Regions from separate parts of the Homo sapiens genome. Here region 2 is linked to region 1. A link means that fine-mapping ties the variant in region 1 to the expression of a gene that starts in the linked region. Tissue or cell type: whole blood. Region 1 holds a variant in brackets; the other region holds the start of a gene. All regions are shown on one strand. Distances are between the middles of the regions.

Evidence for each region. PIP is the estimated chance that this variant, and not a neighbour inherited with it, causes the effect.
Region 2: MAN1C1 starts here. The variant in region 1 is fine-mapped to the expression of MAN1C1 in whole blood (TOPMed, PIP above 0.99). The same link has a PIP of 0.9 or more in blood mononuclear cells, lung and monocytes.

The regions. Positions count from the first base shown.
Region 1 is chr1:25,727,066-25,735,167 of GRCh38, forward strand. All of the region lies in intron 2 of MAN1C1 (mannosidase alpha class 1C member 1), which reads left to right. Among named protein-coding and RNA genes, the nearest start is that of SELENON, 69 kb to the right of the region's middle. The variant A/C (reference allele first, on the strand shown) is at 3,860.
Region 2 is chr1:25,613,410-25,621,511 of GRCh38, forward strand. MAN1C1 (mannosidase alpha class 1C member 1) reads left to right here and starts at 3,382. Exons shown (of 12, transcript NM_020379.4): 1 at 3,382-4,928. The coding sequence starts at 4,389. RefSeq lists enhancers at 2,648-2,817, 7,024-7,073, 7,942-8,102 and silencers at 3,008-3,297, 3,318-3,607.

The DNA.
Region 1 (8,102 bases):
AAGTAAAATTCTTGGTTTAGGTTTTGGCATGAAGGCTGTATTAGACACATAACCATGATGATCATGGAGGCTGCTAGACCCAGCTCAGATTACTACCCAGTGGACTAGCTGGATGACCTTAGGCACTAGTCATTTAAATTCCTCCTCTGTGAACCGGGTTTAACAACACTGCTCAGGGTGGGGATAAGGAACAAACAGACTAAGTCCTGCCTGTGGATAGACTTTGGAAATGGATACTTCATGTCCTTGTCGTAGTCCAGGGCACTGGTGGTATTTCCTCTGCCAGGTGATTTGAGAACTCCTCACGGGTCCCCAGTGAGAGGCGGTGAGCGACTGTGTGAAGGAATGAGACAGCATGGGAGGTGGAGGAGGTTGGTGTCTGCACCCACCCTGCCCGAGAACGGGACAGTGGGGGATACGTGCAGGACAAAATGGCCTTGCCCCCGACTCCAGGCTCCAGAGGCTGGGGGTGAGCATTCTCTACCCCCATCCCAAAGCTATGGCAGAGGAACCCTGCAGCAAAAGGACACGGAGTGCCCATGGTATTCTGTGTGAAAGTCACTGAGGCCAGAGACAGCTCTTCACATCCTGTGTTGCTCAGGCCTTCCCCACCCTGTCCCCCTGTGGGGTCTCAGCCCCAGTTCTGGGCAGGGAGTGTGGGATGCTTAGGAGCGGGGTACAGGCTGAGCCTCAGCCACCCTCACGGGAATCCATCCTGGGCCCCTGGCCCTGGCCAGACAAGCTGGCAGATTGCCCAGCCACATCCAAAGGCAATGCATGCTCTGAGCACAGAGCCTGGCCGAGGACACCAGAGAGCAGGAGAGCGTGGGGGCCGTGCAGACACATGACAAGGCTTTGATAACACAGTCTACCTGCCATGTCTGAAAAATCAGGCGTGCGTCTTCCTGGCAGGGAATGCAGTTTCCTGTTAATGAGTTGTGAGAGGTTGGAACAAGTTATCAGAGAGAGGCTGGGAGGACTGCTTCCCGGGGCAGCTTCCAGGAGATGGAAGCCAGGCCCCAGCCTCCTCCCTTTGGGCGGCTCAGCTATTTGAGGAGCATCTCTCAAAGGGCTGAACTAAAGCCTGGAGTGAGAGTCCCCAGCCTAGGCCAGGACCTGCTGGTGGATCTTGAGCCCCTGCTGCGAGCTTCTCCGGGCCTTAGCTGCTGCACTCCCCTGCCTCAGCAGGGACTGGCCGGAGTCCCCTCCCCTCTGCAACCTCGGGTTCTCAGAGGGACCAAAGCCAGTAACCCCATGACAGACGGATCTCTGTGGTTCCTCGCTGCTTGCAAAGCACTCACACTTGTCATCGTATTAGGCACTCACAACAATCTGTTTGAGAGAAACAGGCTCAGGGAGGTGAAGTGCTCAAGGTCATTCTGCCTGGTGGGTCTGTTTAGGGTAATGCTGGCTGCTGTGACAGATAAACCCAGAGACTTCAGTGCTTGGAGACAACAGACATTTCTTTCTTGCTCATGTAAAGTCATATTGATGGTGGGGAGAGCTCTGTTCCCTCTGATGACTCAGGCACTCAGGGTGATGGAGGCGCCATCATCTTCAGGTTGTAACACCCAAGATTGCCTCGGCCTTGGAATATCCATGAATGGTTTTTATGGGCCAGGCCTCAAAGTGGTGTATGGAGCCTATGCCCACACCCCATTGGGTCCTGCGGCTCCACCTAGATGCAGAAAGGCTGGGAAACGCAGTGCCTGCCTGGGCGGCTATTTCCCTTCAACGGCTCTGTCTAAGGAAGGGGAACTGGTGCAGAATCGTTGCTGGCACAGTAGAGGATATTACCCTCAAATAAAGGCTGGGGACCCCTAGTGAGAGTTTGGTCACCTAGGCGTCAACAAGTGCCCAGTGTGGTCTGAGACCTGGAAGAAGACTCGCTGTGTGGCTCTGACCCCAGAAGGATTCTGGATCTCCAAATGCTGTTCCAGCCTTCTCGGCAGCCTCTTGCCCCTTCGTTAGCTTCTAATGTACATGGTTTGCTCATGGCCCAGCCCTGAGACACCCCTCTGTGGCTCCTCATGGCCCTCAACATAGAGACCAAACCCCTTGGCCTGCATTTGAAGTCTTTCCCAGGATGGCTCCAGCTGACTGGCCACATTGCTCCCCTTATTCCCTCCCCCGAAACCTATGCTCCTCCCTGACCAGCTTCCTACCTCAGGGCCTTTGCACATGCTGTGCTCTCTGCCTGGAATGTCCCCCCTGTTGCTCTCCACCCTGCGGGTTCCTGCTCATCCTTCCCGATCCATCACAGGTCCATGAGGCTTCCTGAGCAGAGTTAGCCACTCGGCCAGCATTTATTGAGAGCTTACTGTGTACCAGGCACTGCAATAAAAGCTTCCCAGGAATTAACTCATTGAGCTCCCAAGCCTACAAGGCAGGCGTCCCATTTTCTTTTTCTTCTTTTTTTTTTTTTTGAGATGGTGTCTCGCTCTGTTGCCCAGGCTGGAGTGCAATGATGTGATCTAGTTCTGTCACCCAGGCTGGAGTGCAATGGCATGATCTCGGCTCACTGCAACCTCTGCCTCCAGGGTTCAAGCAATTCTCCTGCCTCAGCCTCCCGAGTAGCTGGGACTACAGGCGCCCACCACCACGCCCAGCTAATTTTTATATTTTTAATAGAGACAGGGTGTCACCATGTTGGCCAGGATAGTCTCCATCTCTTGACCTCATGATCTGCCCACCTCGGTCTCCCAAAGTGTTGGGATTACAGGCATGAGCCCCCGTGCCTGGCCAGGCATCCCATTTTCTAGATGAGGAACCCAGGTCTGTGAGGAGTGTGTGTGAGGTCACACAGCTGCAGAGTGGCAAAGTCAAATTCCAAACCCAGGTCCCCGTGGCTCACAGCCAGGCCTTAACAGCTGCATAAACTTCCACCTATTCTTAGCACCTGTCACAAGGCTTCATAATCATTCATTTACTTGCTGTTTTGCTGGGAAATTGCTTACTGTCTTTCTGAGAAAGCAGCTGCAGCCTCCGTAAGGACAGAGGTCAGGCCTGATGCATCCTAGAATCTTCCTCACCACTGTCCCCACCAGCACCAAGGCCAAGGTCTGGGTGGTGATTTCCTCTCAGATAAATCCCTTACCCTTTGAGAACCAGAAAGAGAAATTCCTCAGATTATGGTCTGTCATAATCCCCTCCCTGCTTCCCTGTCAGTTTTTGACAGTTACCCTGAAACCGTTTTAAAATGATCTCAGAGGCAGAGACTGGCCTTCTCCACGCATGATTAAGCACGATGGCTTTTTAATGATTTGAGCTGTGCCTTCTGTGAATTGACAAAAATGGATTACCATATATTTCTGAAAGCCACACTGCCAAAATCAGATTTTTTTTTTTTTTTAGTTTTCTCAGCCATCCTCGAAAACCTTAGCTGAGAATGACAAATACTAGGGGCTTTAATTGTTCAGTCACATGAGGGTGGTGCCTCCTGAGTTCTGAGAACTGCTCTCGCCAGGAAAGCCTTGAAATGCTCCTGGGCTTCGATCTTTAGGAAATTGAACTGTGTGTTTTCTCTGAAGCGGAGAGCTGTCTCCTGGGCCGTGGCACGTTTGCTGCATTTGTGAATTGTTTGGGCACTGAGGTCTGAAACAGAGGCAGTTCTTGCCCCAGAAGCATGCTCAGGGCTGTCACGACTGGATGAGGCCTGGCTTGGCTGTGGGTGGGTGGACAGGGCAAGCGGGGAGGGGGTTCTCCCTGTGTGGGCACTTCCTCCTCCTTTTCACTCTCCTGCCAGACTCTGTTCATGGAGTCCTGCACCCTTCACCTGATTCAGGCCACCCACATCTGCGACAGGGTTATTGCTAGTACCTTGGACAGATGCAGACTCGCTGCTGGCTCAGAGAGGTTA[A/C]GTCATTTGGCTGTGGTCACAGGCTGGTAAGCCACAGAGCCAAGGCACATGGTTTGACCACAAGCCTGTGCTTCCCCCACAATCGCTGCTGCTTTAAAAAAATCAAATGAGGCCAGGCCTGGTGGCTCATGCCTGTAATCCCAGCACTTTGGGAGGTCGAGGTGGACAGACCGCCTGAGCCCAGGAGTTTGAGACCAGCCTGGGCAACATGGCGAAACCCCGTCTGTACAAAAAAATTAGCCAGGCGTGGTGGCATGCTCATGTAGTCCAGCTACTCAGGAGGCTGAGGTGGGAGGATCACGTGAGCCCAGGGAAGTCAAGGCTGCAGTGAGCTGTGATCGTGCCACTGCACTGCAGCTTGGACAACAGAGTGAGACCCTGACTCAAAAAATAACAATAATCATCATCATCGTCATCATCATCATCATCATCATCATCATCATCATCAAATGAGAGGCAACTCATAGGTATCCTCTGTAGTCCATTTACATTTAAGGAAAACAAACCTCATTGTGTATCCACTAGCATCAGTGGCTTCAGTCGTCTACATTATCTGCATTTCACAGAGGAGGATGTTGAGGCTCATGAGATAAGGTAGCTGACCAGAAGTCACACAGCTAGTAATAGGACAATTATGATTTTATTCTAAGTCTACCTGATTCCAAAGTTTCTGCCCTACTCTGTCCTTTGTAGGAATCTGTCTCAGGCTCCTTCCTCCCTCTCTAACACAGGTAAGTCTGGCAAGGGGAAGCCTGAGTGGCTTCTGTGAGGTTCTGGAAGGGGCCTGTGGACCAAAGAAAAGGGAGGCCCTTGGTCTATAGGAGTGTGGGCTGGTCTCCTCTTTACTGATGCTGGGAGTAAACCAGATGGATTCGTCATGGCCTGATGGAGAGAAGGCCACCTGTCTGGCCTGTGGTCATGTGTGCTCTCGGCTCCTGCTCTGTTCTATGTCAGGGTTAATTTACTATATATTTACTCCAAACCTACCATGCACCTGGCATCACACTAGGCTCTTTGGTGGCTCCAAAGATGCATCTGGCAGGATCTCTTCCTTCCAGGGCTACCATCTGTCAGAGAAAAAGACCAACTCAGACCCTCCTATGAGTGAGCCTGGGCCAGGGGATCAGTGGTGGGGCCCAGAATGGTGTAGGTAAGAAGAGCCATCCCTCGAGGGCATCTGGGGGGGCTCCTGCAGAGGGTGCCCAGGCTCCTAGGGAGAGGCGGCAGCTCTCTGCAAGGTAGTGCCTGCTGCAGGGGGGCCTTGCTCCAGCCCAGAGGTGGGAGATAGGGTCAGGCTAAGCCACAGGCCTTCAGGAGGTAGCCTGTGGTCTCAAAGCCAAGAGTACTTCCCTGGGACCTTCTTGGACCCTCCAAACCAGGCCCAGTCTCCCAAGTTGTGCAGGAATGGAATGGCACAGCAGTGAAGGGCAGAGCAACCAGGGAAGATGGCCAGAGTTGAGTCCTGGCTCCCTGTTCATCAGCCCTGGGAGGTTTAGATGATTCTCTAAGCCTCAGTTTCCCCATCTGTAAAACAGGGGCAGGAATTGCACCCTCCTCCTCAGGTGTTGTGAGACTTAAAAGAGGTGCTGTCTGTGGTGCGCTCAGCAACATGGTGTCGGCCTTCACGCAGGTTTGCGTCTGCGGCGTCCGGCATTTTGCATGATCTCTAGCCCTCAGGATGGTTTGCAAGGTGGAGGTCTTGCTCCCACTGTGGAGGATGAGGAAACTGAGGCAGCTAGTAAGTGGTGGATCCAAGCGTGGGTTTCCAGGACTCAACCCATTCTGCTGGCCCACTGCCTGCAGCTAAGCTATCCCAGCAACTACAAAGACCCTCCCTGGGGCTCAGCTCCCTACCAGGCTCTCCTGGCACTGCCTCTGCTATCTCTTAATGTTTTACAGGGGTGAATGGGACCTCTTTGATTTCCTTTCTTTTCTCCTTTCCAATAATCATCATTAATCTTGTTATCAGAGCCATGCATCTGCACCTCTTGGCTGTGGTCCACAGGCCGTGTTTGCCATGATCAATGCATAGCTCTGTGTGGCCACAATGTATACCCAAGACAGCACTGCAACCCTGTGTCCGTGGGCCTGGGAGGCTCTGGCACTGTCAAAGACAGCTGGAGGCTCCCCCAGGAGCTGAGGTGAGGCACCTGGCTCACATGCCCTGTGGTCTTGTTGAATTCTTGTTCCTGGACTGGTAAACAGCTACCCCCACAGCTGGGGAGCATCTCCAGCTGCCTTCACAGGGTCTCAAAGCACAGACCCAGGTGCTCCTGCCCCCGTCCTCCTCATCCGTAAGTGCCTAGAGGACAATTCACCAAACCAAGATGGGTAGCTCTGGAGTCCCGTTGGGCCCAGCCACTCATCATACAGCAGCCAGTCAGATCCAGTTCCTAAGCCATCCAGACCCCCTTTCTTGAAGCCCCAGGGCCATGTGTGATCTGGCCTCCACCCCCTCACTGCCCACTACTTTCCCCCTTTCCCGCTGCACACAACCTTTATCTTGGGATTTTCAATGTGCTGTGCATTCTGCCCGCCGTGCCCTTGGCCCCTTTCTCCTGGGCCTCCTTCAAGCCTCTGCCCGAACGCTGCCCATCTCCTGGCTGTGCTCCCCCGCCACACCTAAATGGAGCTCCTCCTTAGCCACTCTGTTTTTCTGCATCACACACGTTACATTTAGATGTGTCTCTGTGTGTCTTTCCCCTCATTCCACTAGGCTCCAGTGCCAGGCACACCCCGAGTACCCAAAAAATACATTTGGGATGAATGAATGAATGAATCTTGAACAAGTGACTTAATTCCTCTAAGCCTCAATCTTCGTCTGTAAGAGGGGGACAATGAGTTTTTATTTTGTTTATTTATTTATTTATTATTTTTATTTTTATTTTTTTTTGAGACGGAGTCTTTCTCTGTCGCCCAGGCTGGAGTGCAGTGGTGTGATCTTGGCTTGCTGCAAGCTCCGCCTCCCGTGCTCACGCCATTCTCCTGCCTCTGCCTCCTGAGTAGCTGGGACTACAGGCGCCCGCCACCACGCCCGGCTAATTTTTTATATTTTTAGTAGAGATGGGGTTTCACCGTGTTAGCCAGGATGGTCTTGATCTCCTGACCTCGTGATCCGCCCACCTCGGCCTCCCAAGGTGCTGGGATTACAGGCGTGAGCCACTGCGCCCAGCCGAGCTTTTATTTTTTTGATTTTTAATTTATTTTAATTTATTTATTTTTGAGACAGAGTCTCTCTCTGTCACCCAGGCTGGAGTGCAGTAGCGCAATCACGGCTCACTGCAACCTCCACCTCATGGGTTCAAGCGATTCTCATGCCACACCCTCCTAAGTAGCTAGGACTACAGGTGTGCACCACCATGCCCAGCTGACTTTTGTATTTTTAGTAGAGATGGGGTTTCACCATGTTGGCCAGGCTGGTCTCGAACTCCTGGCCTCAAATGATCCACCCACCTCAGCCTTTCAAAGTACTGGGATTACTGGCATGAGCCACTGCACCTGGCCCAATGATAGAGTTTTTAAAAGATGGATGTGAAACAAACAGCACAGTGCCAGGCAAAAAAGGATTGTTCTTAACTTCTGATAAGGAAGGGTTGGCTGGCATTTAGAATTCCACATTCCACAAGAAGCTTTTGTGGGGGTGTCCACCCTGGGCTAGGATCTCAGAGCCTCATGGAGTCAGTGTCTGGCTCCCAGCACCTCACACCACAGAGGAATTGCCTCTGGCCAGGGCACTGGCTGTCTAGGTGGCCTCCTCACATAGAGGCAGTGCAGGGAGGGTGTCCAATCCTTCACTCCGCAGATCCCAAAGGCACCTTGACCCTGCAGGGTCTGTGTAGGCTTAAATCAACCAGGCTTAGATCTAGCCATGAAGACACTCCCTGCCTGGAATGGACTTGAGAAAAGGACACAAATTACTGTAATAGAAGTTGAGAAACAATGCCTTTGATATAAACGTTCAGAGGAGAAAAACCTCAGATCCACGTGGGAGAGTCAGGGATGTCTTCACGGAGGAAGAAACATTTTATCTAGAAGTTAAAGTAGACATTGGATTGAGACGTGTGGGGACATTGTGTGTTAGAAGAGGGCATGCCAGGTAGAGAAAACAGCTTGAAGAAAGGGCTGGAGGCTGGAGAGAGTGGGCCACATGGAAGCAGTAGTTTGCCTAGAATGTGGAACACATGAAAAGACGATTAAGACATAGGCGGCCAGTCGCGGTGGCTCACGCCTGTTATCCCAGGCC
Region 2 (8,102 bases), 110 kb before region 1:
GCTGTATCCCCTGCCTCTCTGTACCTGGCACATAGTAGATGTTCAATAAGTAGTTTTTCACTGGATGAATGAATCAATAGTAACAAGGGACCATGCTTTGCTCACCTTTGTGTCCAAAACTAGTGCAATACCTTGCATCTAATTTGAATAAATATTTGTTGACAGAATAAATAGATTTTTTAGAAATAGCTGTTTGTTTCTGTTCCCAGTTCCATTTGAATTTCTGAATTAAACTGAGAAAGATACTGTGAAGGTTAATTTTGTGTGTCAATTTGACTGGGCTACGGGATGCTTACATAGCTGGTAAAACATTACTTCTGGGTGTGTCTGTAAGGGAATTTCTGGAAGAGATTAGTAATTGAATCAGTAAATTGAGTAAAGAAGATCTGCCCTTACCAGTATGGGTGGGCAGCATCCAATCCACTGATGGCTGAAACAGAACTAAAAGGAAGAGGAATGGCAAATCCATGCTCTGTGCTTGAGCTGGAACATCCATCTTCTCCTGCCCTTGGACATCAGCTCTCCTGGTTCTCGGGTCTTCAGACTCAGACTGGGATTTACACTATCGGCTCTTGTGGTTCTCAGGCCTCCTGGCTTGGACTGGAACTACACCACCAGCTTTTTAGACCTCCAGATTGCAGATGGCAGATTGTGGAACTTCTCAGCCTTCCATAATCACAGAAGTCAATCCCTCATAATAAATCTCTTTTTATATATCTATATATAGCCTATTGGTTCTGTTCTGGAGAACTCTGATTAATATAGATACTTATAACTCATCCCAAGTCTCTCTAAGCCTTGGTATTCTTATCTGTAAAATGGGGCTATTAATAATTATCTACCACAAAGATTATTCTGAAAAGTAAATAAGACAATATGTATTTGGCACATAGAAAATGTTAGTTCACTGTTCTTCCATTCCCCGAGCTTCAGTTTCTACATCTGTGAAATGGGCATCTACTCACTCATTTCTTCATTCATTTACTGAGCAAACACAGTGCCCATGTGGAAGGCATTGTGGTTAAGACCCGGGGCAGTTAGAGAAGTTAGAGAGTTAGAGAAGTGAGGAAGCCGTGGTGAAGAACTGAGCATCTGCTTTGTGACAACACACCAATAGTCTTTAAAAGTCAGTGGGAGAAGAGCCACGGGATGTATGAGGTCTCTGGGGGCTAGAGGTGTGGGGCAAGGGGACACCCAGGGTTTCAGAGAGCTTTTTAGAGAGACTGGTATCTCCCTAGCAAGTGATGGTATCAACAACTTGGTGTGATCACCAACATCACATCACTTTGCAATGGAGTTACCTGCTGGGGCCTCTGGTTTTCATAGCCTGAGTGTGAAAGGCACGTCAGTCCTGCTGCAGCCCCACTTTCCACCCTGGCTCACAGAGCACACCAGAGTTTGGTCAGAGTGTCACATCACAGTGAGCATCTAGTTCAAACAGACATTTCCTTCTGAGATTCAGCTCTGCTCTTCTCCCTTTCTGGATCCTACCTTCACAGGGGACTGAACAGTGATTCCCCTACACTCTCAATGAGGAACAACACAGATGATGACTCTAATGAATGCTGGGTCCCTGCCTGGTTCTCCAAAGACAAGGTTGCCCTTTCCTGCAGTGGGACCCAGTGAGGCGATGCTTGGGTGTTGGAGACATGGGTGAGGCCAGGCCAGGTCTCTGGGCTCCTGCACCCAAATGGGTCACATGCTTATCTCTGATTTGCACAGCTGGCTCCACATCAACCTGCCAACGAAACTCACAAGAGATTGAAATATCTGAATTAGAATTTTATATTTAAGCTGCATATATTTGTGGGATTGGGAAGGATTAGTCATCTCCAGTGACCAAAATGTTTGCACCTGTTACCCACTTTCATTTTCAGTTGAGAGAAAGTTGCATGCCAGGGATATTTAAACATCGAGGGTGGGTCTGCTGTCAGTGGTCTGGCCAGAGGTAGAAGGATGACTGAGTCCCAGCCGCCCATCCCCAGCAGGCCTCAGGGAAGAAGCAAGATTTACGAGGCGAGAGCCTGCCTGGCCCGCTTCTTCTGTCGGGAAAGGCTTCCCTGCAGTATTTTCTGTCTCGTCAACACTGCATTTCATTTTAAATTGCAGCTGAAAGTAGATATTTTCCCTCTTGCCTATTACAAACCTCTTAATTTGTCTCTCCCTCTGCTGTTATTTGTCTCTATAAAGTGTTTTGCATGAAAGACCCACACAGCACAATGTTGCTTCACCCTGGGTTAGGTTTAACAGGAAGGGAAGATGCAGAGACTAAGTCCAAGGAGGAAGATGTGAGGGCCTTGGGGTTGAGGACACGCGTGTCTGGGAGTTGATGCCTGGCTGTTTTTGGAGGTTATCTGTTGCCTGAGTGTCTGTGGGTATGCGGGTGCACATGTCCATGTTTGTACTAATTTACATATATGTCTATGCATACTGTGGTATAATCACTTGGGTGTCCATACCCAAATTAAGTGTATGTTTGAGTGCATGTACACACCCACATGCCAGTCTCTGTGTGCATATAGATCTATGCCCAGACGCACACATGTGCATATAAACACACGTAGGCATCAAGGTAGACGTCCGTCACATTATGTGTGTGGTCTTCTGTAGACACGCCCGGGGCTCTCTTCCTTTCGCTGCTTCTCAAGGCTGCGGTCAGCCTCCCTCCGTGCTCCACCCAGGAGCCCTGGCCCCGTTTAGGGTTGTGGGAAAAGGAAGGCACGCCAGTGGTCTGCGAGGGGGCCAGTGGAAACATCACCTCCGCCGACCCGGCCGCGGTCACAGCTCTCTGGCTTGGCTCCAGCCACCAGCAGCACCCCTGCAGCCCGGCGTTAGCGCTGAGAAGCCCGGGGCAGCCGCCAGGGCGCGGGCTGCCAGCTCCCTGACAACCCCGGGCTGGCACTCGGGGGCGAGAGAGGTCACCCAGCGACGGGCACACCCCTCCAGAGCAACACCGTCTCCGGCCCGCTTCCGGGGGCCACCAACCCGAGCCTCGCGGGCGGGCTGGGGGGTGGTCTCTGTCGCTTGGGGTCCAGCGAAGGCTGGGCAGTAACCAATGGACGACTGTGGCCCAACGGGGATCCCTCGGATGCAGCCAATGCCCTCGTTGCGCTCTCCGCCCCCGCCCTCGCCTGCCCCGCGCCGCTGGACCATTGGCGCCCGCTGGATGGGGGGTGCGCGCGACGCCTGCCCTTCGGGGAGGGCGGGGCTTGGAGCGGGCTGCGCTCCCGCCCGCGCTCGGCCTCTGCCCCGCCCCCGGACGCGCGGCCCTCAGCCGGCTGCGGCGCGGCGGCGGCGGGAGGGGGCGCGGGGCGCGCGCGTGGGCGTGGCCGGCGGGCGTGGCCGGCGGGCGGCAGGAGGCGGGGCGGCGGGCGCTGTCGCAGTGAAAGCCCGAGCGGCGGCGGCGGCGGGGACGGCGGTGGAGGCGGCCGGGTGGCTGTGCGCGCGTGTGGGGCGCAGGCTCGGCGGCAGCGGCCGGTCTGGAGCGGCCGCTGCGAGGAAGACAGCTGCAGCGGGGGAGGCGCGGCCAGGGCTGCGCGCTCCGCGGAGCCGGCGGGGCCGGGAACAGGTGATCCCAGTGGGAGCCCCGCGCCCTGCCGAGTTCGAGGGGCGGGAGCCCGCGCTCCCGGGCGCATCTGCAGCCGCCCAGCCGCGGCTCCGGACCCAGGCATCCCTGCGCTGTCTGGGGCCCGGGGGAAGCCCCCTGCCCCCGCAGGCTCGGAAGTGCCTGCTCCTGCTCCCTGGCCACTCCGGCTCCCAGCTCCCGGCGCCCTCTCCGCGGCGGAGAAAGTTGTGGACGTGTCCCGATAGTCGAGCCCGGGCGCTGTCGCGACCGGGCCGGGTGTGCGCGCGCTCGGGGCGGCGCTGACACGCCAGCCCCCCATCGCCTCGGTCCCCTCCGGAAACTGCTTCTGAAGCTGAAACTTTGGGCGCCTACCAGCGCGGGCGGGAGCCTAGGGGGCGGAGGGCGGCTTGGTGCGGGCCTGCGGGCGCCCCTCGGCGCGGACAGCCGGGACGCCGCGGACGGCATGTGACGGTCCCGGCGGCCGCAGCGCGGGAAGGCGCGGGCCCCGGCGCGGCGGGGAGGGCTCGGCCGGAGGGGAGGCTGCGGCGCGCGGCCGGTCGCTGCGGGCCCGGGCCCCAAGCCGTGCCGCTCCGCTCGCCCGGGCCCCGCCGAGGCCGCTGCGCCCCCGCCTCCTCGCGGGAGGACTCGCTCCAAACTCCCTGAACTTCGGGGACAGTCCCCCGAAGCGGCGAAACTCTCAGGGTTGGCAACCCTGCCCAGGGACCCCCATCCCGGGCGGCGCTCCGGACGCCCTCCCCTCACCGCGCCCCCGCAGACACGTGCCTGGACTCCGAGGGCTTCTGGAGCCACCGGCCGGGCCACGATGCTCATGAGGAAAGTGCCCGGCTTCGTCCCGGCCTCCCCGTGGGGGCTGCGGCTGCCGCAGAAGTTCCTCTTCCTCCTCTTCCTCTCGGGCCTGGTCACCCTGTGCTTCGGGGCCCTCTTCCTGCTGCCCCACTCCTCTCGCCTCAAGCGCCTCTTCCTGGCCCCCCGGACCCAGCAGCCTGGTCTGGAAGTGGTGGCTGAAATCGCCGGCCATGCCCCGGCCCGCGAGCAGGAGCCGCCTCCCAACCCGGCCCCCGCCGCGCCGGCCCCGGGCGAGGATGACCCCAGCAGCTGGGCCAGTCCCCGCCGCAGGAAAGGGGGGCTGCGGCGCACCCGCCCCACTGGACCCCGCGAGGAGGCCACGGCGGCCCGGGGCAATAGCATCCCGGCCTCCAGGCCCGGGGACGAGGGCGTCCCTTTCCGCTTTGACTTCAACGCATTCCGGAGCCGTCTCCGCCACCCGGTCCTGGGAACGAGGGCCGATGAGAGTCAGGAGCCCCAGAGCCAAGTGCGAGCCCAGCGGGAGAAAATCAAGGAGGTATGGACTCAGCCCCCAAACTCCTCCCACCAACTGCCCCCTCTAAGGAGAGAAGACCCTCTGGCGCTCCCACCCCTTTCCCTTGCCTCAGTCACTCCTGGTCCCAGGTCTACTTCTGGCCCTGCAGACTGCACTTTGCACCTTCCCCTTTCCTCCCAAATGTCCCACCTTCTTTCCTCCCTACACAGTTTCCCACCACTCGGGTCAGTTAATCGTCCCCACCGTGACAGATGGCAGCTGAACCCCTAGACCAACTGCCCCCTCACTCCCAGACTCTGGTATGTCGTATCCAACCCCCAGGCCCAGTGAGCTCCACTCCTTCCCTTTGTGGAGTTGCTAATGAGAGTGGAGTTCAGGTTCCTTAGTGCACCCTCTTTTTGCATTTGTGGACACAGAGCCACTGGTCCCATTCTTTTTCACTGTGTGACCTTAAGTCCAAAACCCCTATAGGACCTGCTTACCTAAAAACCCAGGATTTAAGGGGGTATTTGGTGTCCTGCAAATATTTTGTAATCTAGTAAGCAACCTACAAACCAGAGGATGTTGTGCATTCTGTTTCTATTGAGCTTATTGAGCTTCAGAACAATTGTACACAATTGTACATAATTGCATATGATGCAGGAAGAGATGATAAAGCAGTGGTCATATTACAGAAGCTCCGAGGTTATTGGCATAATGAAGCAGATCTTGAGCTGGTTCCCTGTAGGGATTGTACCAGGAGGGATTTAGAAGGATCACTTTAAGTCTGAGTCTTAGTTTAAGAAATCAAAAGCAAACACAGCCTCACAAGGCTTGAAGACAGTTGCCAGCTTGCCACTGCCACTAAATATTCTGCTGGACCACTGTTAGAACTGCCTGCGTGCGGATGGTGCCCAGCAATGCAGAGGGGGCTGCAGTGACACCCCCAGGCCACGAGGGGGCCGTGGGCAAGCTGTGGGCCAGGGTCTCCTCCCTAGAAACGAGAGGATGCTCTCCCCTCCCCATGGACTCAAAGGAAAGAAAGGGCTGCTTCTGCCTGGACTTCTTGATTTGCTGCGAAGAAGTCAGCAGTTCGACCCTGATTTCCAGGAAGAGCAGGCAGCAAGGATCAGGACCTGCCCTGTCAAGACCTGCTCAGAGCCGATGGAGGGCTTAGCCAGATTATCCCCTTCTCCTTGTCTGAACCATCCTCCCTTCCAGCGCCCACCTCTCTTCCACTTCTTATCTTTTCTGTTACTCTGTTTGGAGACTTAACTAGCAATCACAGGACATTTTGTGAAGTTACAGTAGGAAGCCACAGGGAAACTGAGTGCTTGGTGTGTATGTGTGTGTGCATGTTTGTGTGCTCTCAGTTTCCAGATTCCTGTTGAAATCTCAGGTTGAGTGACAGCTGGAACTTGCAGTAGCTAAGTAAGGGGCATTCATTTCTCCCTTTCTTGTTAAGGAACTACGCTGTTGAATACTCACTTGGACCACCCATAGCTCTTTCTCAAAGCTGCTTCTGAGCACAGTGGCTCTTTTTGCCCCTCTCGACCTCCCAGTAGGGCAGTGACCCCCAGTGAAATTACATATAAATTGCATGCATGCAGTTTTTCATGGGGCATCCAGAGGTGCCATCAGATTTTCAAACTGATCCCCCAAAGGATTAAGAATTAACTATCATCTTCCTCAGAAGAGATACTCTCTGTGTTTGCATTTAGATGGTGGTCCATTTCCGAATGCCAGGGGCTGGAGAGTCATGGCAGGAAGGAAGGGCTGGCTAGTAGGGAACTTGATTCTCCCTCTCTGTGTAAGACAATTTATTTTGCCAGCAGAGTCTGGGATGATGCTTGCTGGAGTGGCTGGAGGGTGGGAAGAGGGGTGAGGATTCTGTGCTTTGCAGGTGGGTATAAAATAACATGATGGGAGAAGGTCTAAGTTGGTGACCAGATGTCTGGATCTTTCTAGCTGGTATCTCCTTGCACCCCTGGTACTAGCTGGAGGCATGCTGCATATACTTGGAGTTGGTGTTCAGCTAGCCCTCTCTTACTAATCTTGAAGAAGAGAGGGCTGGTTTCTGTTGTTTTGAAACCTATTGTCTCTTCAGGCTTCCTGCCACTGACCACGCTCTCACGACAACCTGAAAGATGTAGAGTGGGTTTTGGTTTAGTTGTTAACAGTTACCATTCCTGCTGTCCCACCCCAGGAAGAACGCATATGATGGTTGCTGGAGAATGTCTTTATTTCCTTCACATTTAAATTCTATCTGCGTCATGCCCAGGGGTAGATCATTTTAGAAAGGTGCCTGTTTTCACAAAAGGGACTGTTGCTTTCCTCCCTGGTTTGTTTATTTCCAGACATGGATTGATTAAATCCAAGGAACAGAGGGGGAGCTGGCATCAGATAAAAAAAGGCCCTGTTCTTATAAGATTTTAAAGTGAAAGTAAATATCAGGAGAGAGAGAAGGTGATAAATGAGCATGAATGAAAACTGGACACTTGGACTCTAGATCAATACTGTGCATTCATGAGCATCCCGAGAGATGGACATGGTCACCAGGTCTGTGTTGTTAAGATGGTTGAGGCTGCAGGTTCTGGGCATGCATATGTCAGGAAACACTCTGTCACTAGAACCAACTGTTTTTCCTCACTTTCCAATTTTGGAACCTTGGCAAAAGCAATGTGGTGGAGAGAGGAGACCCACAGAACATGGGTTGGAGTTTCAGCACACTCTCAACTGTCTGACTTTGGGCAACCCACCTCTCCTTCCTGGACCTTCCTGTAAAATGGGGTGAGGGAGAGGAGAATAAGCTGGTTATAGACCCTCTTGCTTCTGGCCCTGGCCCCTAAGTGAACTGGCAGTCTGGTCAGGGACTCCATAGCGGTTGGGCTTTCCGAACTCTGTTTTGAGATATCTTGTACTGGAAATCAGGGACAATGGTGTGGTGGTAGTGGTGGTGTTGATGGGGTCGTGATGTTCACTGCTGTATCTCTGTCTAGCACCTATCCAAGAATAGATATTCAGGCAGTTGGTTAAGTTAATTATTCCCATTACCCTCAGCTTGGAATCACGAAGAGTAAAGGTGTTGGCTGGAATGTAAAGGGGTGAAGGCTTGGTAGTAGCCTTGCCTTTCAGATCTGAGGATAATATAGGAAATGGGGGATGTCATTCATAGGCGGGTTTCTTATGGATTCAAGTTCAAACAGACTTGTCTCA